7 linked regions of the Homo sapiens genome follow. The protein of the gene in region 5 purifies or fractionates together with the protein of the main gene of each other region. This does not show direct contact. Each region holds a gene or a part of one and is shown on either strand. Other genes may lie near its edges.

Region 1 (3,520 bases), on a different chromosome or scaffold from region 5:
GTGCTGCTGCCGGCACGCCAGGCGCCCACAAGGCCTCGTGCCCGCAGCTCCGGCCCAGGCCTTGCCAGTGCAGTGGACTTCAAGCACCACATCGAGGTGCTGCACTACCTGCTGCAGTCTTGGCCAGGTGAGTTCATGCCCAGGGCCTGCACCACCAATCTGAGCCAGGCTGCTACAGTGATGCCACCTTAAGGGACCAATCAGTGTCTTAGGCTTGAAGCTACGCCCCCTCATGGAGTAAACTGGTACCTGGTTGCCTCAGCAACCAGTTCAGATCCAACCAATCTGTCTGTTTTGTCTTTTTTTATTTTCATTTTTTTGTAAAGACAGGGTTTCTCTATATTGCCCAAGCTGGTCTCAAACGCATGATCTCAAGCCATCCTTCCGCCTCAGCCTCCCAAAGTACTGGGATTATAAACCAAATCACCTTGCCCCACAGAGCTGATTCATCTTTTTATTTTTATTTTTTATTTTTTTTGAGATGGAGTCTTGCTCTCTAGCCCAGGCTGGGGTGTGGTGGCATGATCTCAGCTCACTGCAACCTCTGCCTCCCAGGTTCAAGGGATTCTCCCACCTCAGCCTCCCGAGTAGCTGGGATTATAGGCACGCACCACCAGTCCTGGCTAATTTTTATATTTTAAGTAGAGCAGGGTTTCACTGTGTTGGCCAGGCTGGTCTTGAACTCCTGACCTCAAGTGATCCACCCATTTCAGGCCTCTCAAAGTGCTGGGATTACAGGCATGCACTACCAATCCTAGCTAATTTTTGTATTTTTAGTGGAGATGGGGCTTCACGGTGTTGGCCAGGCTGGTCTTGAACTCCTGACCTCAAGTGATCCGCCTGCCTCAGGCCTCCCAAAGTGCTGGGATTACAGGCATGATCCAGGCATGATCCACAGACCTGCCCCTACCCATCTTTGATGCAGTCAGAGGCCCTGCCTCTTGACATGCCAATCAGAGGCCTAGTTGCGTAAGCAACCAGTCCTAGCTCTGCCAGTGAAAACCTGAAAGGGTCGAAGGCCGCTTTCCACAGGCCAATCAGGAGCCTAGTTCCCTAAGCAGCCAATCAGAGGTCGGCTGTCGCCTCTTTCTATGACCTACCCTGTCTCCCTTCAGATCCCCGCCTGCCCCGACAATCTCCAGATGTCGCGCCTTACTTGCGACCCAAACGACAGCCACCTCTGCACCTGCCGCTGGCAGACCCCGAAGTGGTGACTCGGCCCCGCGGTCGAGGAGGCCCCGAAAGCCCCCCGAGCAACCGCTACGCCGGCGACTGGAGCGTTTGCGGGCGGGACTTCCTGCCCTGTGGGCGGGATTTCCTGTCCGGGCCAGACTACGACCACGTGACGGGCAGTGACAGCGAGGACGAGGACGAGGAGGTCGGCGAGCCGAGGGTCACCGGTGACTTCGAAGACGACTTCGATGCGCCCTTCAACCCGCACCTGAATCTCAAAGACTTCGACGCCCTCATCCTGGATCTGGAGAGAGAGCTCTCCAAGCAAATCAACGTGTGCCTCTGAGCCAGATGACGGGGTGGGACCCCGGTTAGTAAGGACCGGGCGCCCAGTGGCTAAGGCGGTGCCCTGGTGACCAAGGAGAGCCAGACCTGTTGCTCAGGCCGAGCTCCTGGTTGCCAGCGAGTTACCACGGGACCAGTCGCGTGTATGGCTGAGACTCATTCCCAGTTTCCAGGGCCCGGTATTTGGACACTAGTTGCCAAGTCTGGGGCCTGGGGATTTTAGGGACCAGCGGTTGTGACCATCTTTCCTGAGCACCAAGGGCTTCCCCTTTTGTTGCCAAAAAGGTAGTTCTCGCGCTTGCTAGGCTGGCCTCTCTTGCCTCCCCTTGGCCGGGGCAACACCAGTTACTGTGAGCATCACCCTGGTGTGGTGAGTCACCTCTAGTCGGCCCTCTTGCTGCTGCCAACCAAATCAGTATTAGCTTTGAGCACTGCACTGTTTCTCCCTCCCTTGGACGACACAAAGACTAGCATGAGGCACTGTTTGTGGGGGGCAGCCCCTATCCTGGGTTCCAGCATGGACACAGGGGTAGCCTGGGGCTTATAGAGAAACAGCTGGTTTCCCCTACCCTTTTCCGGGGAAGTCCCCACGATTGGCCTCTAGTCAGCAAATGGAGATAACAGAGTCTGGCCTTTCCAATCCCCATCTCCTTGCCCCCCCCTTGCCCCCCCCCCCGAAAAAAATTGAGCACTTAAACCCCTCCCTTTTGGAGGGGGCCCCCTGAAGCGTCAGGCTGGGGGCAGTCTGGTACGGAACATATTTATTGCCTCCATGCATGTGTGTGTGTGTCTGTGAGGACTGGTGTGCGTGGACACGTCTGAAGCAGGCGTGTGGGGCTCTTTCAGGGACCACAGAGGAGGGAGCAGTTTGCAGTGCCCAGCCACCCTGAAATCCCCAATAATGGTGCCTCAGTGGGCCCCAGAGTTCCAGTGGGAGAGTACGGTTCCCTCCTGTCTCCCTCTTCTTTTCCGCACCTCCATCTTTGTGGATAATAAATAAATATGCACAGGTTCTGAGACTGAGTACTTGGGCCTACATGGGCCAGAGGTGGTTTATTCAGTCTCCATAAGAGAGGGGACAAACGGCACAGTTGGGTCCGTGAAGAGGAGGGTCCAAGAGCTCACAAGAGAGCCTCTCTGAGATTTGACCCCTCCATCCCCTCCTCAGGGAGGTTGTGGAGTCACTGGGCCTCATGGGATAGGCCCAGGGCAAGCAATGATGAGACTCCAAACCAGCTGGACACAGTCCAGGGGCAGGAAGGCAGCCAAGCGTCCTGACCCACAAGGCCCTATACAGCAATGGAGCCATCGCGGAAGTCCGTCCTCCCAATGAGGATGTTGACCACAACCGGGTGGCCGTCTCGGCACTGCTGCTGGGCATCGTGCAGCACCTTGACCACCTGATCCTCGTTCTCCCGTGAGAGCAGCAAGCCCCGGGCCCCCAGACCCATGGCTGCCTTGTGATAATCTAAAAGAAGAGATTAAGTCGGATAGTGGCAAGGACTCAGCCCACCGCACATGCAGCCAGCCCAGGAGAGGAACACAAGCCCAGCTGGGACTGAAACAGCCTCCTGTCCTCCCAACCTCGCTGAGGCCCCCTCACCAGTGTAGGCCAGGCCACAGGCCACGTTGCTGCCCAGAGAGGGCACCTGCTCCCGAGAAATCTGTGTCCAGCCAGCATCATTCCCTACCAAGGCCATCACTGGGATCTACAGGAAGATGATGAAGGCAGGCCGCAGCCTTCAGCCCCATGGCTTGGCCAGCCAGAGGACAGAGACAGGGATAGGGCCTCTGCCAGAGAGGAGGCTCCCTCCCCACCTCAGCCCACCCCTGGTGACATCTCCCAGAACCCCAGGCCCTAAGCTTCCCTCAGGCCAGCCCAGTCACCTTGTGTCTGACGAATGTATCAAATTCGATGAGGCTGTAGCCAAAAGCTCCGTCCCCAAACAGGCACCAGACCTAGTCGGGAGGGGACCCAGGATGGTTAGGGTGGATCAGGACC
Region 2 (3,945 bases), on a different chromosome or scaffold from region 5:
CAGTCCTCCCACAAGCCTGCCATCCACCTGTGGGGAGGCCAGCAGCCCACCCTCCCTGCCACTGTCAAGTGCCCTGGGCATCCTCTCCACACCTTCTTTCTCCACAAAGTGCCTGCTGCAGATGGACAGTGAAGATCCACTGGTGGACAGTGCACCTGTCACTTGTGACTCTGAGATGCTCACTCCGGATTTTTGTCCCACTGCCCCAGGAAGTGGTCGTGAGCCAGCCCTCATGCCAAGACTTGACACTGATTGTAGTGTATCAAGAAACTTGCCGTCTTCCTTCCTACAGCAGACATGTGGGAATGTACCTTACTGTGCTTCTTCAAAACATAGACCGTCACATCACAGACGGACCATGTCTGATGGAAATCCGACCCCAAGTAGGTTGCATTAATTAGGTAAAAGCATAAAACACTGCTGTAGAGATTAGTATGTGAAACAGTATGGATTTATGATTTTATCTTTTCCTGGTGATGACATTTAATAATTTGTTTTTACTGTTCATGTAGATCTTTGAACCTTACCCTTCTCTTATTTGATTTTAACTATGATTTGGATTCTGGGAAAAGTGTAATTGAATTTCAGTAACTGAAACCTATAATAGCATATCAAAGCAGAAAGAACACATGGAGAATAACCACCCAGCCCCCTCACGTTACGGGAAAGACAAGCCAGCTGCCCCAGTTAGAACCACGGATGAGTGGGAGGGCTGGAACTGAAACTGGCCTCTCGCCTCCCTGCGGGCCTTGTCTCCTCCACTGCTGTACATGTCATTGTTCTGTTTCTGTTGGGACTGTGTGTAGCAGGTGATCAGCCTGCTAGGGCTGCCATAACAGAGTGCCACAGCATGGAGAGATGTTCAGCACAAACTCATTGTCCAGCAGTTCCAGAGGCTGGAAGTCAGATCAAGGTGTCTGAAGGGTTGGTTCCTTCTGAGCTCAGCCTGGCTCCTTGACTTCTAGACGGCCGTTTTCTCCCTGTGTTCTCACACAGTCTTCACTCTGAGTGCATCTGTGTCCTAATCATCTGTGTCCTAATCTCTTTTTAGGACATCAGTCACATTGGATTAGGGCCCACCCTAATGACCTCATTTTACCTTAATCACCTCTGTACAGACCCTATTCCACATACAGTGACATCTGAGGGACAGAGGGTTAGGGCTTCTGCTTAGGAATTTTGTGGGGACACAGTTCACCCCATGACAGCAAGTATTACCCTGTTGATGTATGTTATACCAGACAGTTCCATGAGGTTTATGTCCAGATGTGGAATCTCTGAAAGAAAAGAAAATCAAATTTTTAAATAGTTTTTTAGTCTATTCAACAAGAGGGGCTTGGGCAGAAGGCAACCAGTGGTATTTCCACAGCACTTTATAGATGTTAAAGCACTTGGACATAAATTGTCTCTTAGTTTTTATGGCAACTCTATTATATGCAAGAGAATTCAAACTTACGGAAAATTAATGTTATTCAAGGTCACACAATTAGGAAGTAGTGGTGTCAGAATTTAAACCCGGGATCCTTCTGCTGTATCACAGTGTCTCACTCCTCCTCACTGCGGTATTTTTTCCATTCCTAAAATTCAGTGAGTATTGATGTGACTGGATCATGCTATCATGTGCTAGAATGTACTCAGCTTTGAGATTTCTGGGGTTAAGTGGCACTGAAATACTGACATTTGAGGAGATAATATGGGTACTTTGGAAGAATGGGGGATTTTGAGTCATAGAACAAAGGTTCAAGTTCTAGTTGTACTATTTGGTAAGTTTGTGATGCTGGGGAAATTACGTAGACTGCTTTCTTGTTTGAATGTCTTAAAAAGCATTGTAGTGTCATGGTTAATAGTATGGAAGCTAGCTGGGCTCATATCTCTGCTTATATGCTGAGTGAATTTGGGCGAATCACTTAAACATTTTGTGCCTCAGTTTCTTCATCTATAAAATGGGGACAGTAACAATATACATACCTAATACTATACTTACCTAATCTGTACAATTGAGATCGTGGTAAAAGTCAGATGGCACACTAAGTGCTCTGTAGAGCTTGAGTATTATTTATTTTGTATGTGAACATAATTGCAATAACCTTATATACCTGTCATGAATATTAAGTGAGGTAATATATACAAAAAATGCTTTCTAAATTGTAAAATGCTATGCTAGCATTGGTTATAAAGCTATATTAAGACAAACTGCTTTCATCCTTTTTATCTTTTCCTTTACTTCTTTTTAAATATTATATCTGGATATGATATTTTCTATATTATTGTTCATTGCCTTTAGATAAATTGGTTTATTATCTTTCTGTAGGTCAATAAGTATTGGTAATTTATAATTGCACAAGGAGAAATTCTAGCACAGTAATCCCATATGAAAGCATATTTTTCTCTAACTTATAAGCCAATAATTATTTGCTAAAGTGGTAATAACATTATTCAGTTCTTCAGTACAAACAAGAAAAGAGGTGACGTGTAAAAGTCTAACTGCTTTTCCATTTTCATCAGTTTTGTCAAATCATAATCTACAGTGAAGTTTAATCATGTTGACCATCATTTTTAAACCTCTTAAATTTATTCCAGTCTAGTCCATTTTGAAAGCTACCGTTATAATATCATTATAATGACTCATAATTTTTATTGGCCTAAGCACTGTGAGGATTATTTAGCTCTGTTTACAAATATAATTTCCATAGGTTGAAGTACTCTTTGCAAACTTGCAGGACTTCAGCCAGGTGTGGTGGCACATGCCTGTGGTCCCAGCTACTCTAGAGGCTAAGGCAGAGTTCCTTGGTCCTTAAGGCCAAGAGTTCGAGGCTGCAGTGTGCTATGATCATGCCTGTGAATGCATGTTTTTTGTTGAAGCTCATTTTAAAGCTATCACTTTGTTGAATTGCCATCATAATTATTTTTCTTGATATTCATTGTTTTAGAACTCATTTTCTTTCTAACTGCATACTGTTTTGGCTTTCTCAACCAGCTGGTGCAACTATTATCTCAGCCACTGGAGCCTCTGCACTGCCACTCTGCCCCTCACCTGCTCCTCACAGTCATCTGCCAAGGGAGGTCTCACCCAAGAAGCACAGCACTGTCCACATCGTGCCTCAGCGTCGCCCTGCCTCCCTGAGAAGCCGCTCAGATCTGCCTCAGGCTTACCCACAGACAGCAGTGTCTCAGCTGGCACAGACTGCCTGTGTAGTGGGTCGCCCAGGACCACATCCCACCCAATTCCTCGCTGCCAAGGAGAGAACTAAATCCCATGTGCCTTCATTACTGGATGCTGACGTGGAAGGTCAGAGCAGGGACTACACTGTGCCACTGTGCAGAATGAGGAGCAAAACCAGCCGGCCATCTATATATGAACTGGAGAAAGAATTCCTGTCTTAAACTAAGTGCCTTACTGTTGTTTAAGCATTTTTTTAAGGTGAACAAATGAACACAATGTATCTACCTTTGAACTGTTTCATGCTGCTGTGTTTTCAAAAGCTGTGGCCATGTTCCTAAATTAGTAAGATATATCCAGCTTCTCAAAAAATGTATATGATTGCTGTTAGCCATGTCTATTGTTTTTCCTCTGGATTCTTTTCTTATAACTTGGAATACACAAAAGTGTAAAACAAGAGATGTGCACCAATGAAAACTATGCTGGGTCGAATTACCTTCAGCACAATGTTAATGTTTTTGTTCTCATTTATGCCTTTGTCCATTTGCACACAACAGAAATTGTAATGAGCTTCACTATTTTTGTTTCTTTCCTTCCTTTTTTTTCTTTTTTCCTTTCTTTCCTTTTTCTTGTCTTGTTTCTTGTTTTTTTTTCTTGTAGTTTCTTTTCTTAATTGTCATTTTTGCAACAAAAAGCCAAGAAAGAGCTTTAGTTTCTTGGCAAGAATAATGTGATATTAGTAAGTAAAGGTCTTAAAAGTCTGACGACTGGAATAGATATAAAGT
Region 3 (4,483 bases), on a different chromosome or scaffold from region 5:
GGCCAGGCTGAAGAAAGGAGGGCTGTAGGGTCTGTGAGCTGGGGCACATTGAGAAGAGGCACTGGGAGCTTGGAGGAACCTGAGGCTGGAGACCCGCTTTGGGGGGCTCTGGTGAGGCACCTGCGGCCCACCCCCTCCACCACTGCCCCGGTGCTTTATGGGAGTCCACAGCTTGGAGGGGGCGGGCCGCCACACCGGCTGCCAGCGAGACAGGTCCACGGGCACTGAGAGTGAGCGGCAGTGCCTCTTGGATGGAGGGGCAGGGGGCACAGGAAGCTTCTCTGGATCTGGGGGCTCAGGTCTTAGGACTTGGGAGAAGGGCTGCTCCTTGGGGGAGTTTCCCCGACTGGGTGGTCTGAGGTGCAGGCTCAGGCCTGAGGGATGGTAGCTGAAGTTGAGGCTGTCCTGGAACTCAGCACAGGAACAGTGGGGCAGGCCCCTCCAGGAAGCACCTTCTGGAAGGCATTTATAATAAGAATAATATTAATGATAGCTTACATTTTTTAAGAACTTACCATTTGCCACATAATGTATGGAGCATTTTATGTGAAAATTTCCAAAAACCTTATGAGGTAGGTAGTATCGTTATCATTATCCCCATTTCACAGATAAGAGAAATTCAATAACTTTCCCAAAATCACATAGCACTCAAAAGACCAAAGGAGGATTCAAATCCAGGTCTGTCTGATGCGAAGGCTAGGTTTTTAAACCACTATGCTCTATTGCCTCCATTGTGACCAACTACCTGGAATCAAAAACATTTCATCTACTGCCTGCCACTCCCTCTCAAAGGTAAAAGAAGTCAAGAGAAACAAACACGTTTGTGAGTGTCCTGCTCATCTCTCCCTCGCCCCTCCCCCACGCTTGCCCTGGATGCTGAAAAGCAGGCCTATGCTCTTCTTTCTCGGCCTTTCCTCCTCTCATGTGTCAACAGCACCAAGTCAGGAGTTAGGACTGCCAAGAAGTAAGAGGTAATCAGGCAGGTAAGAGATCACTTTTATTCCTAGGGAGGGCAAACAGGGTGGGGAAGGCCTTTGACAGTGAAACCTGGGCTTGGGAAACCCTGACTTTGTGCTGCTCATCTTCGTTTCTGTCTGGCCACCCACATATTCCGATTCCCTTCCCCTAGGCCTTCTCTTAAATCCAAACAGATGGAGGGACCAAGAGAAGGAAGGGAAAATGGACTAAAAGAAACAATCCTCACTCACTGTATTCCAACCAAAATTGTGACTTTTGGGAGACGGCTCATTAAGGGACAAAGGGCCTAATCCAAACTCCTCTGGCTAGCTGGCTGGAATTCTGCAGGGGCTGGATATTTGGGGCAAACGACAAGTATACGAAGTCAGACTTGATGGTGGCAAAATTCATACTGAGTGTATTTGGTCTATAGTTCTTCCCTCTACTAACCACTATGAGGGCAGGGACCATGAGTTCCTGCTCTATACTTATGACACAATACCTGGCTTTCAGCAAGTCTTTAATAAACAGGAGGAAGAGACTGAATGAACATGTTTTTGCCAACTCACTTCCCTTGCTAGGTATCCCAGAAAAGAAAATGAGATGCAGAACTGCTGAGCAGCACGAGTTAGGGAGTTCTGATTGTCCACCAGTGATGCCTCCATCTAAATGTCCCTACGATCAGGGGCCCTTTAACTCAGTAATTAATAATCTACGAATTTATACCTCAGATATATTTTCACATGTGAAAAAATGACATATGTACAAGGTTATTCACTACAGTTTCTTTTTTCTTTCTTTTTTTTTTTTTTGAGATGGAATCTCGCTCTGTTGCCCAAGCTGGAGTGCAGTGGGTGCGATCTCGGCTCACTGCAACCTCCGCCTCCTGGATTCCAGGGATTCTCCTGCCTCAGCCTCCTGAGTAGCTGGGATTACAGGCGCCTGCCACCATGCCCAGCTAATTTTTGTATTTTTAATAGAGACGGGGTTTCACCATGCTGGCCAGGCTGGTCTCGAACTCCTGGCTTCATGCTATCTGCCCACCTCGGCCTCCCAAAGTGCTGGGATTACAGGCATGAGTCACCACGTCTGGCCCACTACAGTTTTATGTATCCAAACAAGATTAGAAATAACCTAAATGCACATCAATAGAAAACTCATTAAATAAGCCACTGTACATCTATGCAGTGTAATAATATGTAGCTATATATAACAAGGGAATGAATACTCAGCATTCTGATAGGGAAAGATCTCCTAGCTATATTAAAGTTTTTTTTGTTTTTTGTTTTTTTTTTTTTTGAGATGGAGTCTTGCTTTGTTGTGCAGGCTGGAGTGCAGTGGCATGATCTGGGCTCACCACAACCTCCACCTCCTGGGTTCAAGTGATTCTCCTGCCTTGCCCTCCCGAGTAGCTGGGATTACAGGTGTGTACCACCATGCCAGGCTAATTTTTGTATTTTTAGTAGAGACAGGGTTTCACTGTGTTGGCCAGGCTGGTCTCGAACTCCTGACCTCATGATCCGCCCACCTCGGCCTCCCAAAGTGCTAGGATTACAGGCATGAGCCACTGTGCCCAGCAATTTTTTTTTTTTTTTGAGACAGAGTTTTGCTCTTGTTGCCCAGGCTAGAGTGCAATGGCGCAATCTTGGCTCACCGCAACCTCTACCTCCTGGGTTCAAGTGATTCTCCTGCCTCAGCCTCCCGAGTAGCTGGGATTACAGGCATGCGCCACGACGCCTGGCTAATTTTATATTTTTAGTAGAGATGGGGTTTCTCCATGTTGGTCAGGCTGGTCTTGAACTCCCGACCTCAGGTGATCTGCCCACCTTGGCCTCCCAAAGTGCTGGGATTATAGGTGTGACCCACTAGGCCCGGTCCCATTTTTTTTTTTAAAGGTACAAAATAATATATAGTATGCAACCTTTTGTGTTAAAAACGTGGAAATAAAATAGATGCAGCTAACCACCATGGCACATGTACACCTATGTAACGAACCTGCACGTTCTGCACATGTATCCGAGAACTTAAAAAAGAAAGGAAATAAATATATACATTTGCTTCTTTTTATATAAAGAAATTCTAGTCACATATACTGTATAAGAAACTAATACTTTTAGGGAGGTGGTAGAAGCTGGGTAGATAGGGAACGGGAGAGTAAGAGAGACTTTTCTCAGCATAACCTTTTTGTTGTTATTTTTTAAATTTTGAACCATGTGAATGTATTACCTATTCAAAAAATTAGATTATACAAGTCCCCACAAAGCTAGAATAAGAGCAAACCAACCAGATAACTTTCATGCTAGAACATGAAAGACAACTGTCAATCTCAGAAGTTGACCCTGGCAAGAAGGTTCTAGAGGTAGGCTCGCTAGCCCTGGTCACTGGAAACCAATGATAGAAATGTGTGGAGAGAGGAATGGGTACACACACGTACACAAACACACACGATGCCTTACCAGACACAAGCTGGAAAGAGTTCCCACAGTTGGAGATGTCTGCATGATCAGGCAAAGGCTAAGAAAGAGAGAATATCCATCATGATTTGGATTCAGGACACACTGACAGATTTCTAGGAAGCCCTCTTCAGTTCTCCTCTGCGATTCATGAGCTACAGGGATGTTAGGGACATTAAGTGTTCTTCCTCTTGTCTTCCCAAAGTTAGTAAGTCAAACAATCCACATCTTCCAACATCTCAAACCCTTCTCCACCCAAGTTTTGCTGTCCCTTCTCTATCGGTGGAAAAATCCCTGCCCCCTTCCTTTTGGGCTGGGTTTTGAGCCATTAGTGGGCTCTTCCAGGTTAAGTACCATGATTCATACAGCACAGGACAAGAGTAAAGTAATAGCAACAATCAGCCTCAGAAAAAAGGGGGAGGGGGTCGTGGAGAAGCAGGAAGACTGGTCTTTTACCAGACTGATGCTGAAGCGTGTGCATTTCAGCTCATCCAGAGTCTGCTTCTGTAGCTGCTCAGTGATCAGGGTTATCATGATTCTCCCCAGGATTTGACTTGCACACTTTGGAGCAAATGATGGATGTCTTCCCTGTTGTTCTTCCAGACCTCACTTGTGAGCCGTCTTCTGCCACTGCAGCACCATTCTAGCACCATTGGGACTTCCCTCTCCAGTCATGCCTGCTGAGTCTGCCAATTAGAGGGACCAGCCCCAAGTGATATTAGAGATGCACCTGGTCCAGAGATGGAAAATGCATGGCACACATACCACAGCACCCCTAAGCCAGGCCTCTGGCAGACATCAATTGATCACAGCTCTTTCCAGCTAAGCCTAAACACAGCTTCAGAAATTATGAACTTGGCAGTCCAGATATGAAATAAAATAGAGTTGGCAATCAAGTTGAAACTTATTTGCTACCCTTAAACTGGTTCATGCTCTGTTGTTTCTAACTGGAATACCAGCACCACTTAGAAAACAGCTGCTCAAGTGAGAGAGAGGGATGCCCAAATGATTATTTCCATCAAGATCAGCCCAGTATTTTATCTTCCAGTCAGAAGTGAAAAGAGGTACCCTTC
Region 4 (4,483 bases), on a different chromosome or scaffold from region 5:
ACTGGCCAACATGGTGAAACCCTGTCTCTACTAAAAATACAGAAACTAGCTGGGTGTGGTGGTGAGTGCCTGTAATCCCAGCTACTCAGGAGGCTGAGGTGGGATAATCGCTTCAACCTGGAAGGCGGAGGTTGCAGTGAGCTGAAATCGCACCACTGCACTCTAGCCTGGGCGACAGAGCGAGACTGTCTCAAAACAAACAAACAAACAAACAAAAAAAGTAGTAATTGTAGCATTTCTATGTAGCAGAACCTCAGAGAGGTTAATTAACATTCCCAGAATTACAAAACCCACCTGTGCTTTTACTACAATGTTGGACATGATTATCTTTAAGAGGATCTTGCTATCCTGAGATGACACCATTTTCAAAGATGTGCAGGATAAACTGGAAGCATAAGTCTTGATCTTCCATCAAAGGAGCTCCCAGTCTTGTTGATAATAAGATGCACATGTGAGTTCATTGGAAGAATATATGTACCTAGTGCACTGATGGCAGCCAATCATGAATTAAAGAAATGGGGGTGGAATTTGAGAACAGCACAGAAGACAGCACAAGCAGGCCCCTTGGCTCCAAGTTCCACCGGGGTGACGTGGAGGAATCCAGATGGGTGCTGCACATACAGTGGGTTTGTGTCGGCATCTGAGGATCACTGAACTTGGGGAATCCGCTGCAAAGTCTCTGATTTAGATGACTAGGTGAATGCTGGTGTCATTAACTGAATCAGAAGCACAGGAGAAGCAGGTTTTAGGGTGGAGGTGTGGGAAATGATGAGTTCTAGTCTCAGTCAACAGTGTGTCGTCAGTGCTTATGTGCTGTGTACCCTGCCTGCAACTATGAATAAGATGCAGTGTGTGCCTGGAAGCAACTCAGCACAATTGAGTTTTAGGTGTCTGAAGTGCAGCCAGGTGGATGGATCCAGAAGGCCATTGTGAATATGAGTCTGAAACGAAGGGACTGGACGTAGGTGTAGATTTCGGAGTCATTACTGTAGGTAGAAGATAGAGCACCTCAGGTGTGTCTGTGACAGAGGCGGTCACAGAGGCCAAGAAGAGCAACCTCAGGAGAATCAGGTGAAAGCAATGTTGTGGATGCCTAGGGAGGAAAAATGTGTCAAAAGAGTGAAAGGTGAAAGCAATCACATGTCACAGGAATGGCCGCGTGATTAACACAGAATTGTGTTCAGTGGATTTGGCATTATGATGGTCAGTGTTCATTTTCAGGATAATTTCACTGAAACGAATTAATTGGTATTGGGCATTGGCAGTGGGCTGAGGAGTGAGTGGGCGTGCCAGTATGGAGGCAGCGAGTCTCAAGAACATTCCTCTGAGAAACTCCAGGTAGAAGGGGAGGGTTCAGAGTGGTACCTGGAGGGGTAGGTACCTTTTTTTAAAAAAAAAAGTTTTGGGGAGATATTTGAACCTTGTATAGATAGAGCCAATAGATAGAAGTTTTTGAAATATGGGAGGAAGAGAATAATTATATAATGGGAAAGCCCAGGAATTTCAAGCTTAATTTTCTTGATGGGGTAGAATGTGAGGTTATTGAAAGTAGGAGGAATTGGGTGAGCTGGGGTCTTCTGAGTAGTGAATGTGTAGGAATGTGGTTGAAGGACCCTAACTGTATTTTCTATCTATTGAGGGTACTGGGGTCATCCATTCCGAGTTTTTTCTTCTTGGTTTTTAGATATAAGTCACATCCCCAAAGTGTACCATTCACTGGGTTTTAGTTTACTCACAGACTTGTGCAGCCATTATTAGTATACAATTCCAGAACATTTTCATCACCCCACAGAGGAACCTTGTAACTGTTAGCAGTCAGTCTCCATTTCCCACTTCCCAGCCCCTGGCAACCACTAATCTACTTCCTGACTCTATGGATTTGCTTATTCTGGACATTTAATACATGGAATCCTATATTATGTGGACTTTTGTATCTCACTTCTTTCACTTGGTATAATGTATTCAGGGCTCATCCATGTTTTGTCATGAATCAATACTTCATTCTTTTTATAGCTGAACAACATTCTGTTACACAGATATGCTGTGTTTTGTATTCATTCATCAATTGATGGGCATTTGGCTTGTTTCCAATTTTTGGCTATTATGAATGATGCTCCTTTGAACATTTATGTACAGGCTTTTGTGTAGACATGTGTTTTCATTTTTCTCAGATACGCATATGTATAGGAGTGGAATTTCTGAGTCATATAGTAACTAACTTTTGAGGAACTGTTTTCCAAAGCATATGAACCATTTTACATTCCCATAGAAATGCATGAAGGTTCCACTTTCTCCACATCCTCACCAACACTTGTTCTTGTCTCTCTCCATGAGTATTGCTATCCTAGTGGGTATGAGGTGGTATCTGATTGTGGTTTAGATTTGCCTTTCTCTGGTAGATAATGTTGAGCGTCTTTTCATGTGCATATTGGCCGTTTGTATAGCTTGAGAGAGATCTCTATTCACATCTTCCCCTTATTTCAAAAACTATATCTTTTTATTACTGAGTTGTAAGACTTCTTCATACATTCTGTATACCATTCTGTTATCAAATAGATGATTTGCAAATATTTTGATTTTATGGGTTTCTTTTTCACTCCCTTGTGTCCTTTGATGCATGAAAGTTTTAAATTTTGATGAAGTCCAGTTTATTTTTAGTTGCTTGTGATTTTGCTGTGATTTCTGAGAAACCATTATCTAACATCATGTGGATTTTCATTTGTTTTCTTCTAAGAGTTTGATAGGTTTAGCTCTTACATTTAGATCTTTGATCCAGTTGGAGTTTTGAATGTGGTATGAGGTAGGGATCCAACTTCATTCTTTGGCATGTGGATATCCAGTTGTTCTAGAACCATTTGATGAAAAGACTGTTCTTTCTCCATTAGATTGTCTTGGTACCCTTGTCAAAATCAATTGACCATAACTGTGACAGTATGTTTCTGGACTCCCAATTCCATTCCATCAATGTATATATGTCTTTCCTTATGTAAGTACCACACTGTCTTGATTACTCTACCTTTGTATTAAGTTTCGAAACTGGGAGTCAAGTCCTCTGACTTTGTTTTTCTTTTTCAAGATTGTTTTGGCTATTCTAGTTCTGCCTTAAGCGGGTTTTTTTTTTTTTTTTTTTTTTTTTTTGAGACAGTCTCACTCTTCTCACCCAGGCTGGAGTGTAATGTCGTAATCTTGGCTCACTGCAGCCTCTGCCTCCCAGATTCAAGCAGTTCTCCTTTCTCAGCCTCCTGAGTTTCTGGGATTACAGGTGCCTGCCACCCTGCCTGGCTAATTTTTGTATTTTTGGTAGAGATAGGGTTTCACCATGTTGGCCAGGTGCCTTATGAGTTTTTTAAATACCTGTTTCTTAGTCTTCTGAGGTTGATTGGTTTCTTTTTTAAACTGTTTATTTGTTTAGAGATGGAGTCTCATTCTGTTGCCCAGGCTGAAGTGCAGTGGTGTGATCATAGCTCACTATGACCTTGACCTCCTGGGCTCAAGATGTCTTCCCACCTCAGCCTCCCAAAGTGCTAGGATTACAGGCATGAGCCACTGCACCCAGCTGATTCATTTCTTGAGTATGAACATTTTATGTTTTTGGTCACATAGGATTATTTTATTTGTTTTCAGATATGGGGTCTTGCTCTGTTGCCCAGGCTGGAGTGTAGTAGCACAATCATAGCTCATCACAGCCTGTAACTCATGGGCTCAAATGATCCTTCCATCTCAGCCTCCTGAGAAGCTGGGCTACAGGTGCATGCCACTACACCTGGCTAATTATTTTTTTTAAATTTGTTTTAGGGACAGGTTCTTGCTGTGTTGCTCAGGCTAGTCTTGAACTCCTGGCCTCAAGTGATCCCCCTGCTTCAGACTCCCAAGTAGCTGGGGGATTATTTTAATTATTTTCACACTATCACATCTCCTCTCCTAACCTGGCATCTCATTCTTGTGTTAGCCATGTTAGAGCTCAGTTGTATTTTAATCTTTTATTTATTTAATACATTTTCATGTTTACTAGTAACAATATAAAAGTAGTGATTAGGTTATTTTATATATCTCTTTTTAGAAAATAAAGACCAATTTGCTTTTTACTTATATGGTATCACATAATTTTTTTTCTCCCAGGGTCAGCAGATCTCAATAAAAAAGGGGGTCCCAAGTAACTTATAAATAGAACAAAGTAGTATAGGTAGTGTTTCCTGCTATGCCATTAAATATTATATTCCAATTGGGAAAACAAGTCCTTCCTACATAAATATCATTGATGAATATTTTATGTATGAACATGTGTAGACATGGAAAAGTATTGGGTATGTGACACTAATTGGTTGAAAATAGGATCACATGTGGCATGCAAAGTTTGCGGTTGAATAAGTAAATCTTACAAATAGCTTATTATCTATCTTTAAAAAATGAACCCAAATGAATTTAAGAGTAAATTATAGTTAGATATTTAGGAACATGACTGGTAGATAAAGGGAGGTACACC
Region 5 (4,483 bases):
TGACAGGGTGTCCTCTGCATATGGCCGGAAGCCCTCATTCTCATAGATGGTCTCCTCTTCCAGGGCCACATCCTCTGAAGACTCACCCACCTTGAAGCGGGCCCGCTGCAGAGAAGAGGCCGGCGAGGGCCGGTGGGGCTGGGCAGGCCGCCTCTCCCCTGAGGCTCTGTCCTCCACGGGCTCCTCGCTCAGCTCAGGCTCTGAGTCAAAGCCGAATGCAGGGATGTCATACTCAGGCTCCTCATACTTGAGCTTCCGCGGGGAGTCCTGGCTCTCACTGGCCCCCGTAGGGCCCTCCTCGGCCTCCTTGGGCTTGCTGGGGGGTGCTGGCGGGGGCACCTTGGGCCGGGTCAGCGTGCTTGTGCGGCGGCTCAGGTTGGGCTTCTTGCGCTTATCGATGTATGATGCGGGGGCCCAGCCCTCCTTCTCACCGATCTGCACGTACCACCAGCCACCTGAGTTCTTATCAATGACCTGGGGTACGAGTGCAGACAAGCCAGTGAGTTGGGAGGATCTGGAACCCTATGACATCCCAAGGTAGGAGTATCATACTTTGGCTCTGGGATAAATTATCTCCATTTTACAGATAATAAACCGAGCCACTGAGTAAGTGGCCCAAAACCCAATATAGTAAATAATGCACCAGAATTCAAACCTAGGTCTCTATCATCTCATGGTTGGTGGGTTCCCACTTGCCAAGTTCCCTCCCTGATCCTCCATGTCTGTGTTAACAGCCGGGTTGAGCTGGCCCACTCTGCCTCCCCCTAAACTGCACTGTTCCCAGTCCCTACAATCCTGCCAGTAGACTAAGGACACGTATGAAGAAAACACTGCCCTTCTGCTGCCCCTTCCCTCCTCGTACCCTCGATGTTGCTAGGTCCTCCCTTTGAGTTCCTTGAAAGGGTCTCTAGGGTCAGAAGAGTATGGGAAGATGCAGATGAAGTGACCTGGGAGGTACAGGCCCGAGGCCAGAGCCTCTCTGCAGAGCCTTTCCCCAGGATCCACCCGCTGTGGTCATCTTACTGGAATCCCACTGAAATCCCACTAGCTGAAGAGATTTCTTTGGGTTGATTGGTTTCCTGTAGGAAGGGCAGGGGGCTTTCAGTCATTTCCATGTTAGTATAAACTGGTTTAAGGAGCTTCTTCCTTAACTTCTGGAGATCAACCAATGGCCAAAAGTGTGGCTGCTGGTTGTGCTGGGGTCCATTTGGACTGGGGAACATAAAGGGCAGATAACTGGGGATTGTGGGACACTCCTGGAGGAAAAGGTCCTGGGGTGGGGAAGGGGTAGCGTGAAAACACTGGCACTATGGGAAGAGGGCCAAGGAGGGAGGGAAAGGTGAAGAATGCAAAGGCAAGAAGAGACCAGTCCTCTGCATCCCCCACTAGAAGAGAAAGATTTTCTCCTTCTTTGGGTCCTACATTCTGTCCTTCACCCTGCCCCAGCCCTGTACCTACAGTTCAAGCACAGGTGGCTCCTGAGCCTGACAGTTCTGCCACATTATGCTCTTTACAGACTCTCCTGGAAACCTCAGTACAGAGAGAATGATTTTTCTTGGAAATTTAGTTGCAAGTTCCAGGCATGTGATTTAAAACATTCACATTGGGAATGTCACTGCTTTAGAGGCAGAGACTGCCCAATGAGTCTGACAGGTTCACTTGTATTAGATGGAGTTAACTCAATTACTACACAAAGCCACTCAGAGAATTGACTAAGTTACAGCTCTTCTCTGCTGCCGGGAATACCATGCTCAGCCCCAGCCACAAAATAGAGTGGCATGAATGCTGGAAGACATGCTGGGGGGTGGAGGGGCGTCCCAGGATCTATCACCCTGTTTTGCAGAGAGAAATGCTTAAAGTTGGGGGTGGCGGGTGAGAGAAGTGACTGCATCAAAGGCCAGGGGTCATGTGGTGTGGACTTGGCCAGAGCCCAGGTCCCCAGTATCTCAGTCTACCTGCCTGGTCCACATCCTCCTAACAACACTTCCTGATGTGGCTTCTGCAGGATCCTGGCCCTGAGATGTTCCTGGGAGAGAAAGCTTGTGGGGTTGGGCAATGCTGTCTATTCTAGACCCCTTGTAGGTGACACTCCCAGTGACATCCTTGTATCCTAGGCTCTGGGAAGCCCTGCAATTAAAACAACAAATGGGTTGGATTTTGTTTAATCCACTGTCCTGCAAGCTCATTTGACCAAAGAAGCCCTTTGTTTCAAGGCCCCCCTGTCACAAGCTCCTGCACATGCTCTGGGAAATGTTGTGAGACAAGCCCTGTGAGCTCAGGGTGGAGCGTGAGAGCTGGGATCTAGTTTAGGCCATGGCACTGGCCAGCGCCAGGCAGATGCTCATCTTTGTGGGGCTCATTTCTGTACCTTTCCTGCCTGCCTGCCCCTCAGGAATCTTACTAGCAAGGCCTAAAATGGGAAATGCAGTAGGTTTTCCACCACAATGAGTTAAAACCCTCGGCCTCATGGCCCAAGGCTTACCTCTGCCTTCTGTCCACCCCGAAAGCTGATGCCATCGGAAATGCACGACTGGAATTCGGCAATGGTGTAGTACTCCACCTCAACAGAAGGGGGCTCTGGTGGCTTTGGCAGTTGGAACCCCTAAGGTTAAGGAACACACAGTGGGCAAAACCCGCCTAAATCAGAAGAGTAACTTGGCCAAGGGTTGGTCCCCACTCAGTCCCCAGGGGGTGCGGATGGCCGTTTACACCAGCTGGACAGCAGCTGGCCTGAGTACGTATCTATCATGGGAGTCTCAGGGTATATATCGCCAGGGGACTACTCTGATGAGGCTTTCTAATAATACTCAGGACTCACGGAAGACTTGTCTGAGCTATCAAAATTCTCACATTACTATTACTATCATCATCATCATCATCATCATCATCATCATCATCATCATCATTACTCTGAGATAGGGTCTTGCTTTGGGACCCAGGCTAGAGTGCAGTGGAGTAATCAGAGCTCACTGCAGCCTCCATCTCCTGGGCTCAAGTGATCCTCCCACTTCAGCCTCCCCAGTAGCTGGGACTACAGGCACACACCACCACACCTGGTTAATTTTTTTTTTTTTTTTTGGTAGAGATGGGCTCTCTCAGGATCTGGAAGAATTTGCTAAAAAAAAAAAAAAAAAAAAAAAAAAAGCTCTCCCCCTCCCCCTCCCCTTCCCTCTCCCTCTCCCCACGGTCTCCCTCTCCCTCTCTTTCCACGGTCTCCCTCGGATGCCGAGCCGAAGCTGGACTGTACTGCTGCCATCTCTGCTCACTGCAACCTCCCTGCCTGATTCTCCTGCCTCAGCCTGCCGAGTGCCTGCGATTGCAGGCGCGCGCCGCCATGCCTGACTGGTTTTCGTGTTTTTTTGGTGGAGACGGGGTTTCGCTGTGTTGGCCGGGCTGGTCTCCAGCTCCTAACCGCGAGTGATCCGCCAGCCTCGGCCTCCCGAGGTGCCGGGATTGCAGACGGAGTCTCGTTCACTCAGTGCTCAATGGTGCCCAGGCTGGAGTGCAGCGGCGTGATCTCGGCTCCCTACAACCTCCACCTCCCAGCCGCCTGCCTTGGCCTCCCAAAGTGCGGAGAGTGCAGCCTCTGCCCGGCCGCCACCCCGTCTGGGAAGTGAGGAGCGTCTCTGCCTGGCCGCCCATCGTCTGGGATGTGAGGAGCCCCTCTGCCTGGCTGCTCAGTCTGGAAAGTGAGGAGCGTCTCTGCCCGGCCGCCATCCCATCTAGGAAGTGAGGAGCGCCTCTTCCCGGCCGCCATCCCATCTAGGAAGTGAGGAGCGTCTCTGCCCAGCCGCCCATCGTCTGAGATGTGGGGAGTGCCTCTGCCCTGCCGCCCCGTCTGGGATGTGAGGAGCGCCTCTCCCCGGCCGCGACCCCGTCTGGGAGGTGAGGAGCCTCTCTGCCCAGCCGCCCCGTCTGGGAAGTGAGGAGACTCTCCGCCTGGCAACCGCCCCGTCTGAGAAGTGAGGAGCCCCTCCGCCCGGCAGCCGCCCCGTCTGAGAAGTGAGGAGCCCCTCCGACCGGCAGCTGCCCCGTCTGGGAAGTGAGGAGCGTCTCCGCCCAGCAGCCACCCCGTCCGGGAGGGAGGTGGGGGTCAGCCCCCGCCAGGCCAGCCGCCCTGTCCGGGAGGTGAGGGGCGCCTCTGCCCAGCCGCCCCTACTGGGAGGTGAGGAGCCCCTCTGCCCGGCCAGCCGCCCCGTCCGGGAGGGAGGTGGGGGGGTCAGCCCCCTGCCCGGCCAGCCGCCCCGTCCGGGAGGTGAGGGGCGCCTCTGCCCGGCCGCCCCTACTGGGCAGTGAGGAGCCCCTCTGCCCGGCCACCACCCCGTCTGGGAGGTGTACCCAACAGCTCATTGAGAACGGGCCATGATGACAATGGCGGTTTTGTGGAATAGAAAGGGGGGAAAGGTGGGGAAAAGATTGAGAAATCGGATGGTTGCCGCGTCTGTGTAGAAAGAAGTAGACATGGGAGACTTTTCATTTTGTT
Region 6 (3,374 bases), on a different chromosome or scaffold from region 5:
AGCAACCCACCGTCCTCATCCCACCAGCATCTGTGACAACTTCTCGGTGAGAGCACCCACCTGTTTCTTGGGAGGGAAGGTTCTGATGCCTGGAGCCTCTTTCTAAGCCTCTTTCCCACCCCTAGGCTTATGGCTGGTGCCCCCTGGGACCACAGTGTCCTCAGTCTCACGATATTGACCTTATCATTGACACTGATGAGGCTGCGGCAGAGGACAAGCGGCGACGGCGACGACGTAGGGAAAAACGGAAGAGGGCTTTATTGAACCTACCGGGGACACAGACCTCTGGGGAAGCTAAGGATGGTCCTCCCAAGAAGCAGGTCTGTGGGGATAGCATCAAGCCTGAAGAAACCGAGCAGGAGGTGGCTGCCGATGAAACTAGGAACCTGCCTCACTCCAAGCAAGGCAACAAAAATGACTTAGAGATGGGGATTAAGGCAGCAAGGCCTGAAATAGCTGATAGAGCTACCTCAGAAGTGCCAGGGAGCCAAGCCAGTCCTAACCCAGTGCCTGGGGATGGATTGCACCGGGCTGGTTTTGATGCCTTTATGACAGGTTATGTGATGGCCTATGTGGAAGTGAGCCAGGGACCGCAGCCCTGCAGCTCTGGACCCTGGCTCCCTGAATGCCACAATAAGGTATATTTGAGTGGCAAAGCTGTACCCCTCACAGTGGCCAAGAGCCAGTTCTCTCGTTCCTCCAAAGCCCACAATCAGAAGATGAAGCTCACTTGGGGCAGTAGCTGATGCAACTTCCACCTTGCTCTCAGGTGGAACAGAGGTATTTTGGGTCTCTCTAGCCTGAAATGTCATCCTCAACTGCTACTGAGTTTAGGGGAGGGGGAATGTCTTGACAGACATCACTGCATTGCCCTGGACCGCCTCCTTTATCCCAGTGTTTGAGGTACAAGTAAGAAGGCTGACCAGCACCTGTAACACTGACTTTATTTTTAAGTCTGAAAATGTCTTGGGAAAGTTTTACAAAAAAAAAAATCAACAGAAGCAAGTTATGAAAATATTTGACCAGCTTCATCTTTGGTTATTTCTTATTGCAGCTCTGTAAGGACAGACTGTTCCCAAAGCTCCAGCCATGGCAGGAAGGGAAGCAAATCAGTCCCTGTATAAACCATTTAACCAATTGAATGTATCACATGTTGATAAATACATAGAAGCAGGCCCTAGGGCCTACAAAACCAGCCCCACTCCCAACCACAAGGTTGAAAGTCTTATGGGGCAGAACATTAAGACTCCTTTATAAATATGAAAATAGATTAATCAACAGGAAAAGGTCTTTGAATAGGTTAGCTAAGAGCCATGACCACCACGCTGCCTTGCTGTCCCCTTGCATAGAAATGTAGTGACGTGGTCTGACCATGCAGTAAGTGCAAACAGCAATTACTCAAATGTCTTAGAATACTGGCAAGAAGCACCCCAATATTCAGGTCTGGGAAACAGCCATGACCATTACGGCCTCTTGATCAGCTCCATGTTCCACTCAGTAGCTTATATGCCCCAAGAAAAGGCAAGAGACAGACCTGGGGTGGGGAAAGAACCGGGGTAATAGCTGCCTGCCAGCTCAGCCTAGAACTAGACATCCTCTGGTCCTATCTGGGGAAGTACACTGGAGAGGGTCTGGTGGGAGGCAGACCTCCTTGCTGGATTTCAGAGGCTTGGTATCAGCTGTTGGCCCTAACTAGGAAGGCCTCTCACTGCTGCCTCCCGTCATACACAGCCAATGGGCACTGGGAGCCCAGAAGTTGAGCCTGGCTTGGCCTAGCCTGCCTGCTCTGTAGGCTCCAGGGAAGAATCAAGGCTGTGCACCTAGGGGGCCATATGGTTTCAGCTGAAGGTCCATCCCCAAGGTGAGGCAGGGACTAAACCCCCTCACCCATCCTGCTTTCCCTGGGTTTGCAGGCCTATGCCTGAGGTGGAGAAGGTGGCTGGAGTTGAGCCTGCTGGCCTTTCTTCTACCTCCATCTCCTCAGAAGCACCCGCAGGGCATGGACTGGTCCCCTGGGGCCTGGACCCAAAACCATTTTCTTCCTGGAGAATGGAGCAGTCCATAGCCTCATGGGCTTGAGCAGCTGGTAGGGCAGATGCCCGGAATGGTGGGATCTCTTTAACTCTGTACTTGAGACTACTTAGGCGTGGTGGGGGCCCATCAGATAGCGATTCTTCCCGGCCCACAAATGGACAAGCCTCTTGATGCAAGAACTCAGGCGAACCAGGCAAGGAACGCCACCGGCGAATAGGTGGGGCCAGGGGCTCCTGCCAGTCAGCCAGGGGCATAGTTCCGGGCCCTGGTGCATCCAGGTCAAATACCAGAGAGATGACAGACTTGCTGGGCAGGTCAAAAAACTTGATCTTGCCCCCCATGAGGTCCTGGCGAGCACTAAAAGGGTTGACTTTGGGGGTGCGGGCAGCACCATCTCGTGGCCGGTAGTATGGGTCCAAGACACTCACTGTACGTGGGGGCTTACGGGAAAAGATATCTGACTGGCTTCGAGACAGCCAGATGGTACGTCTTGGGCATGGTGACTTGTGGGGGATCTTGTCATCCAGTGAGCTTAGTCGCTTCACCCCAGGTGCTTTCTCCAAGAGTCCTGAAGAATAATCAAGTCTGGGTTACTCTCACTAGTCATAACAAATACAAGCAGCATTTTACCACAGAATGTTTTCACTCATGAAAGCAAAGCTGATACCATGGCCCTGTTTTACCAATGAAGAAACAGACTCAGAGAGGGGAAGCAGTATGCCAAGCCACAGCTCTTAAAAAGGCCAGTACTTTCTGCATCATCTCCTTCCCCTCCCATTTGTTTCTGGACCTGGGATCCTGGCAATCACAACCCTAAGAGGAGAAGGCCCCACATCCGAATTTCCTCCCTTAGGGTTAGGTTGGGCTCCCTGGTCTAATCTCTTACCCCTGGCTGTGGGCTGCAGCTTCCTATCCCTCTCCTGCTCTTCTTCCTGTAGGCGGCTCAGAATTTCCTCCAGGGTCTTCCCAATCTCCACAAAAGATGGGCGCAGTTTGGGATCCATCTGTAGGTATCCACAACAGCCATGAGCTCTGCCCTCCATCTCCCACCCCAAAGATGGCATTTGAGTCTATTTCTGGCATCTTTGAAGATTCAGATGTGCAGCTGAGAGACCTTTTCTAAAGGCCCCAGACAATGAAGGTGATCCCTACAGTTCAGGTCAGGGAAAACACTACTGTCTACTACCCTCCCTGTCTTAGTGTTTGTCTTATCACCTTGTCACAGAACCTTCCAAAAGTATGCTCATATTAGTTTATTCTGTTCTTGAGTTCTGCTCCTAATGTGTTTCTGGGAGGTATCTGAACAAAGCCCACCTACCCCTTGATCCTAACAGGTAAGG
Region 7 (4,483 bases), on a different chromosome or scaffold from region 5:
CACCCTGCAGGGAGTCTCTGACCCAGAGATTGAGTGCCCATGCTGTTGAACAACATCACCTAGACATGTAAGCCCCCTCTCTGATCCCCCTCTGCCCGGGGAGTTCCCTTGCCGGCCTCTCCCTCTTGATGGTGACTCCTGGAACCTCAGCCTCCAAAAGGCTTATGCTATGAGGGACTTCCCTTGTATGCAAGCCTGCCATTCAAAGCAGCACCTAAATAAAGCTCACTGCGTGCTACTCCCACTGGGTGGGCATCTATTTCCTTGATCAGCCCCCAAGCCCCTAGAACGCCCTACACCTGGGGCAGGTAAAGGCCTGGCTCGTGGACAGAGCACACATGAGGCTGTAACCTCGCTATGGCGTGTCTCCACTTCCCCCTCCAGTCCTCAGGTGCCTTCTCTGCCCATTCAAGGATGAATGTGTGAGCCCTGCTGGGGTAGGAGGGGGATGCAGGAGCTGCCTGGGCCTCAACCATCCCCTCAGGCATCTGTGAAATGGGTCTATGCAGGACTCAGGGACTCACCCATAGGCTCCGTTGCTAATGAGTTTGATGGTCTCAAAGTCGCTTTCGCATGGCTTCCTCCGTGACTGGCCGACCAGGGCGCGGCTCTAGGGGATGGGAAGGGCTTAGGGTCCTGCCCCGCTGCAGAGCTGGGAAGGCTTCTCCTGCCCCCAAGCCCAAACCACTGGTCCTGGTGCCCGATGCTACCTCCTCCCCTGTCCAAACTTCTCCAACTCAGCTTCTGACTTTCTGTACTTTTTTGCTCACAGCTGTGCCCTCCTCCTGGGAAATTCTTACACGTCCTGCAAAACTCACCTGTCCAGTGCCCCTCCAGCACTGCCCCCACCCGACTTCCAAGGCAGGGCAGTCCCACGTGCCGTCACCTTGCCTCCAAAGTCACCGATGCTAATTAAGCTACATGCAAGACCTCGGCAAACCCAGCCCTTTCTGCGGGTGCCTGGTCCACTCTGGAAAGAACAAGATGAGCGGGGGTCCCCCAGCCTCTGCTACTCACCTCTGGGGACTCAGGTGCTGGGGGCTGTTCTTCTTCGAGGTGACTCAGTGGCACCATCTCTGCAAGATGAGGGAGGAGGCTCAGCTGGAGCCTCCCTGCCTCACCCTGCATCACCCAGCAATTTCCTGAGGCCTCTAGAGTTCTCACCCCAGGCTGGGGATGCAGTGCCTCCCCTGACCAGCTCTCATGACACTGTCATGAAGCCACATCCGGGAGGCTGGATGAAGCAATGACTTAGGAACCTTCTAGAAGGGCCAGTGGGCTGCCCTGGCTCTGAAGTGCTCAGTCATGATCAAACTTAGGCTCTGAGCCTTGAGCCTGTGAAGACGGGATGAGACACAGGCCCCCTGGGTGTCAGCTCCTAACATCTTCCTCAGCTCAGGGTGCAGCCCAGGTGGAGGGTCCAATATGTTCTTGCCCCAGGCCTTGGCAGAGGGGCAGCCCCTAGCGAATGCCTGGCAAACATGGTCCAGCCACAGACCACATGTGATCTGGCCTTAGGTACACCTGGGTTTGATTCCCTGCTCAGCCTTATCTGCCTGGAGCCTCAGTTTCCTCAGCTTTATTTTTTATTAGTATGATTATTTAATTTATTTATTTGACATGGAGTCTCGCTCTGTCACCCAGGCTGGAGTGCAGTGGTGTGATCTCAGCTCACTGCAACCTCCACCTCTTGGGTTCAAGTGCTTCTCCTGTCTCAGCCTCCCAAGTAGACGGGATTACAGGCGTGTGCCACCATGCCCAGCTAATTTTTGTATTTGTATTTTTATTTTTTGAGACGCAGTCTCACTCTGTCGCCCAGGCTGGAGTGCAGTGGCGAGATCTTGGCTCACTGCAACCTCCACCACCTGAGTTGAAGAGATTCTCCTGCCTCAGCCTCCCGAGTGGCTGGGATTACAGGCGCCTGCCACCACACCTGGCTAACTTTTGTATTTTTAGTAGAGATGGGGTTTCACCACATTGGCCAGGCTGGTCTTGAACTCCTGACCTCAGGTAATCCGCCTGCCTCGGCCTCCCAAAGTGCTGGGATTACAGGTATAAGCCACTACGCCCAGCCTAATTTTTGTATTTTTAGTAGAGACAGGGTTTCACCATGTTGGCCAGGCTCGTCTCAAACTCCTGACCTCAGGTGATCTGCCCGCCTTGGCCTCCCAAAGTGCTGGGATTACAGGCGTGAGCCACCGCACCCGGCCAAGTATGATTATTTCAGAGACAGGCTCTTGCTCTGTCACCCAGGCTGGAGTGCAGTGGTGCCATCATGGCTCACTGCAGCTTCAGTCTCCTAAACTCAAGCAATCCTCCCACCTCAGCCTCTCAAGTAGGTGGGACTACAGGCATTCACCGCCACGCCTGGCTAATTTTTAAAAATACTTTTTGTAGGCCAGGCGCGGTGGCTCACGCCTGTAATCCCAGCACTTTGGGAGGCAGAGGCGGGCGGATCATGAGGTCAGGAGATCGAGACCATCCTGGCTAACACAGTGAAACCCCGCCTCTACTAAAAATACAAAAAATTAGCCGGGCGTGGTGGCGGGCGCCTGTAGTCCCAGCTACTCGGGAGGCTGAGGCAGGAGAATGGCGTGAACCCAGGAGGCGGAGCTTGCAGTGAGCCAAGATCGTGCCACTGCACTCCAGCCTGGGCGAGAGAGCGAGACTCTGTCTCAAAAAAGAAAAAAAAAAATTACTTTTTGTAGAGATGGGGTCTTGCTATGTCACCCAGGCTGGAGTGCAGTTGTGCGACCATAGCTCACTGCAGCCTCAAACCCCTGGGCTCAAGCAGTCTTCCCACTTCAGCCCCGCAAGTAGCTAGGACTATAGGCATGTGCGATCATGCCTGGCTAATTGTTTTTTTAATAGAGACGAGATCTCAGTATGTTGCCCAAGCTGGTCTCAAACTCCTGGCTTCAAGTGATCCTCCTGCCTTGGCCTCCCACAGTGCTGGGATTACAAGTGTGAGCTACCATGCCGGGCCTCCCCAGCTTTCAATGGGGACAGTGGCAGGTCAGTCCCACTCCAGGTATGGTCCAACCTTAGGGTCTATGCCTATGCTGCCTGTTTCACTCTTTCCTTTGGATCTGCAACCTGGTCACCTCCTGCCCTCCAGGCCTCAGTTTGAACACTGCCTCCTCCCAGAGCCTCCCCCTGGCTACTGCTGGACCAGGCTAGGTCCAAGTTCAATGCTCCAGCTTTCAGTTCCTCTTATCCTGGCTATTTGTGGAAATTTTTTTTTTTCTCTTTTTGAGACAGGGTCTGGCTTTGTCACCCAGGCTGGAGGACAGTGGTGTGATCATAGCTCACTGCAGTCTCAACCTGCCAAGCTCAAGCGATCTTCCCACCTTAGCCTCCTGAGTAGCTGGGACTACAGGCGCGCACTACTACACCCAGCTACATCTTTTTTTTTTTGAAATGTAGGCTCACTCTTTCACCCAGGCTAGAGCACAGTGGCGTGATCTCGGCTCACTGCAACCTCTGCCTCCTGAGTTCAAGCGATTCTCCTGCCTCAGCCTCCCAAGTAGCTGGGATCTACAGGCACATGCCACCACACCCGGCTAATATTTGTTTTTAGTAGAGATGGAGTTTCTGCATATTGGCCAGGCTAGTCTTGAATTCCTGACCTCAAGTGATCCACCCGCCTCAGTCTCACAAAGTGCTGGGATTATGGGATTACAGGCGTGAGCCACTGCACCTGGCTGGCTGTGGGAGTTGTTTGTTTTTTTTTTTGAGACAGAGTCTTGCCCTGTTGCCCAGGCTGGAATGAAGTGGTGTGATCTCGGCTCACTGCAACCTCCGCCTCCAGGGTTCAAATGATTCTCCTGCCTCAGCCTCCCGAGTAGCTGGGATTACAGGCACACGCCACCACACCCGGCTAATTTTTGTATCTTTAGTAGAGATGGGGTTTCACCATGTTGTCCTGGCTGGTCTTGAACTCCTGACCTTGTGATCCACCCACCTCGGCCTCCCAAAAGTGCTGGGATTACAGGCGTGAGCCACCGCACCCGGCCGGCTGTGGGAGTTTTTGACCGTCTTCTTACCTACGGGTTGTCCTGTTTGACTCCAAGTTCACTTTCTGGGCCACAGTAAAGGCCACAGAAATTGGTAAAGTCATTTGTGAATTTGCAGGACAAAGGGAAGGCCACTGCTAACACTGGTCCCCAGGCTTCCTGACCATCTTAACGTGGCATTTGAGGACACTGAGGCCCCTGGGCCCCAAAAGATCAGAGGGTCTCAGCATAATTCCCACAGGTGACCTAAGAGCAAGGCCACAGAGAGACAAAGAACAGTGCGGTGGTTCTGGAATCGGATGGGCCTGGGTTTGAATCCTGGCTTCATCTGCCCTTTCTTTTTTTGTTTTTTTGAGACAGGGTCTCGCTCTGTCGCCCAGGTTGGAGTGCAGTGGCGCGATCTCAGCTCACTGCAACCTCCATCTCCTGAGTTCAAGCAATTCTTGTGCCTCAGCCTCCTGAGTAGC

The links.
Region 1: the proteins of SH3PXD2A (region 5) and SYDE1 purify together in Homo sapiens (affinity purification with mass spectrometry, with the first as the bait; one large-scale study listed by BioGRID). This does not show direct contact.
Region 2: the proteins of SH3PXD2A (region 5) and MAP3K21 purify together in Homo sapiens (affinity purification with mass spectrometry, with the first as the bait; one large-scale study listed by BioGRID). This does not show direct contact.
Region 3: the proteins of SH3PXD2A (region 5) and FAM53C purify together in Homo sapiens (affinity purification with mass spectrometry, with the first as the bait; one large-scale study listed by BioGRID). This does not show direct contact.
Region 4: the proteins of SH3PXD2A (region 5) and KIF13B purify together in Homo sapiens (affinity purification with mass spectrometry, with the first as the bait; one large-scale study listed by BioGRID). This does not show direct contact.
Region 6: the proteins of SH3PXD2A (region 5) and TESK2 purify together in Homo sapiens (affinity purification with mass spectrometry, with the first as the bait; one large-scale study listed by BioGRID). This does not show direct contact.
Region 7: the proteins of SH3PXD2A (region 5) and MAST3 purify together in Homo sapiens (affinity purification with mass spectrometry, with the first as the bait; one large-scale study listed by BioGRID). This does not show direct contact.

The regions. Positions count from the first base shown.
Region 1 is NC_000019.10:15,112,445-15,115,964, forward strand, and holds the end of SYDE1 (rho GTPase-activating protein SYDE1), read left to right. Parts: coding exon 1-127; intron 128-1,115; coding exon 1,116-1,519; 3' UTR 1,520-2,530; downstream 2,531-3,520. Other genes in the region: HACL2 (2-hydroxyacyl-CoA lyase 2), read right to left, coding at 2,808-2,986, 3,122-3,227, 3,406-3,477. UniProt on the Homo sapiens protein: GTPase activator for the Rho-type GTPases. As a GCM1 downstream effector, it is involved in placental development and positively regulates trophoblast cells migration.
Region 2 is NC_000001.11:233,379,328-233,383,272, forward strand, and holds part of MAP3K21 (mitogen-activated protein kinase kinase kinase 21), read left to right. Parts: coding exon 1-383; intron 384-2,977; coding exon 2,978-3,384; 3' UTR 3,385-3,945. UniProt on the Homo sapiens protein: Negative regulator of TLR4 signaling. Does not activate JNK1/MAPK8 pathway, p38/MAPK14, nor ERK2/MAPK1 pathways.
Region 3 is NC_000005.10:138,340,797-138,345,279, reverse strand, and holds part of FAM53C (protein FAM53C), read right to left. Parts: intron 4,097-4,483; 5' UTR 4,064-4,096; coding exon of another isoform or gene 4,016-4,063; 5' UTR 3,945-4,015; coding exon 3,867-3,944; intron 3,472-3,866; coding exon 3,414-3,471; intron 456-3,413; coding exon 1-455.
Region 4 is NC_000008.11:29,252,484-29,256,966, reverse strand, and holds part of KIF13B (kinesin-like protein KIF13B), read left to right. Parts: intron 1-4,483. UniProt on the Homo sapiens protein: Involved in reorganization of the cortical cytoskeleton. Regulates axon formation by promoting the formation of extra axons. May be functionally important for the intracellular trafficking of MAGUKs and associated protein complexes.
Region 5 is NC_000010.11:103,603,316-103,607,798, forward strand, and holds part of SH3PXD2A (SH3 and PX domain-containing protein 2A), read right to left. Parts: intron 2,603-4,483; coding exon 2,483-2,602; intron 475-2,482; coding exon 1-474. UniProt on the Homo sapiens protein: Adapter protein involved in invadopodia and podosome formation, extracellular matrix degradation and invasiveness of some cancer cells. Binds matrix metalloproteinases (ADAMs), NADPH oxidases (NOXs) and phosphoinositides.
Region 6 is NC_000001.11:45,342,957-45,346,330, forward strand, and holds the end of TESK2 (dual specificity testis-specific protein kinase 2), read right to left. Parts: intron 3,039-3,374; coding exon 2,921-3,038; intron 2,603-2,920; coding exon 1,884-2,602; 3' UTR 927-1,883; downstream 1-926. Other genes in the region: TOE1 (target of EGR1 protein 1), read left to right, coding at 1-46, 126-746. UniProt on the Homo sapiens protein: Dual specificity protein kinase activity catalyzing autophosphorylation and phosphorylation of exogenous substrates on both serine/threonine and tyrosine residues. Phosphorylates cofilin at 'Ser-3'. May play an important role in spermatogenesis.
Region 7 is NC_000019.10:18,124,993-18,129,475, reverse strand, and holds part of MAST3 (microtubule-associated serine/threonine-protein kinase 3), read right to left. Parts: intron 1,077-4,483; coding exon 1,018-1,076; intron 611-1,017; coding exon 525-610; intron 1-524.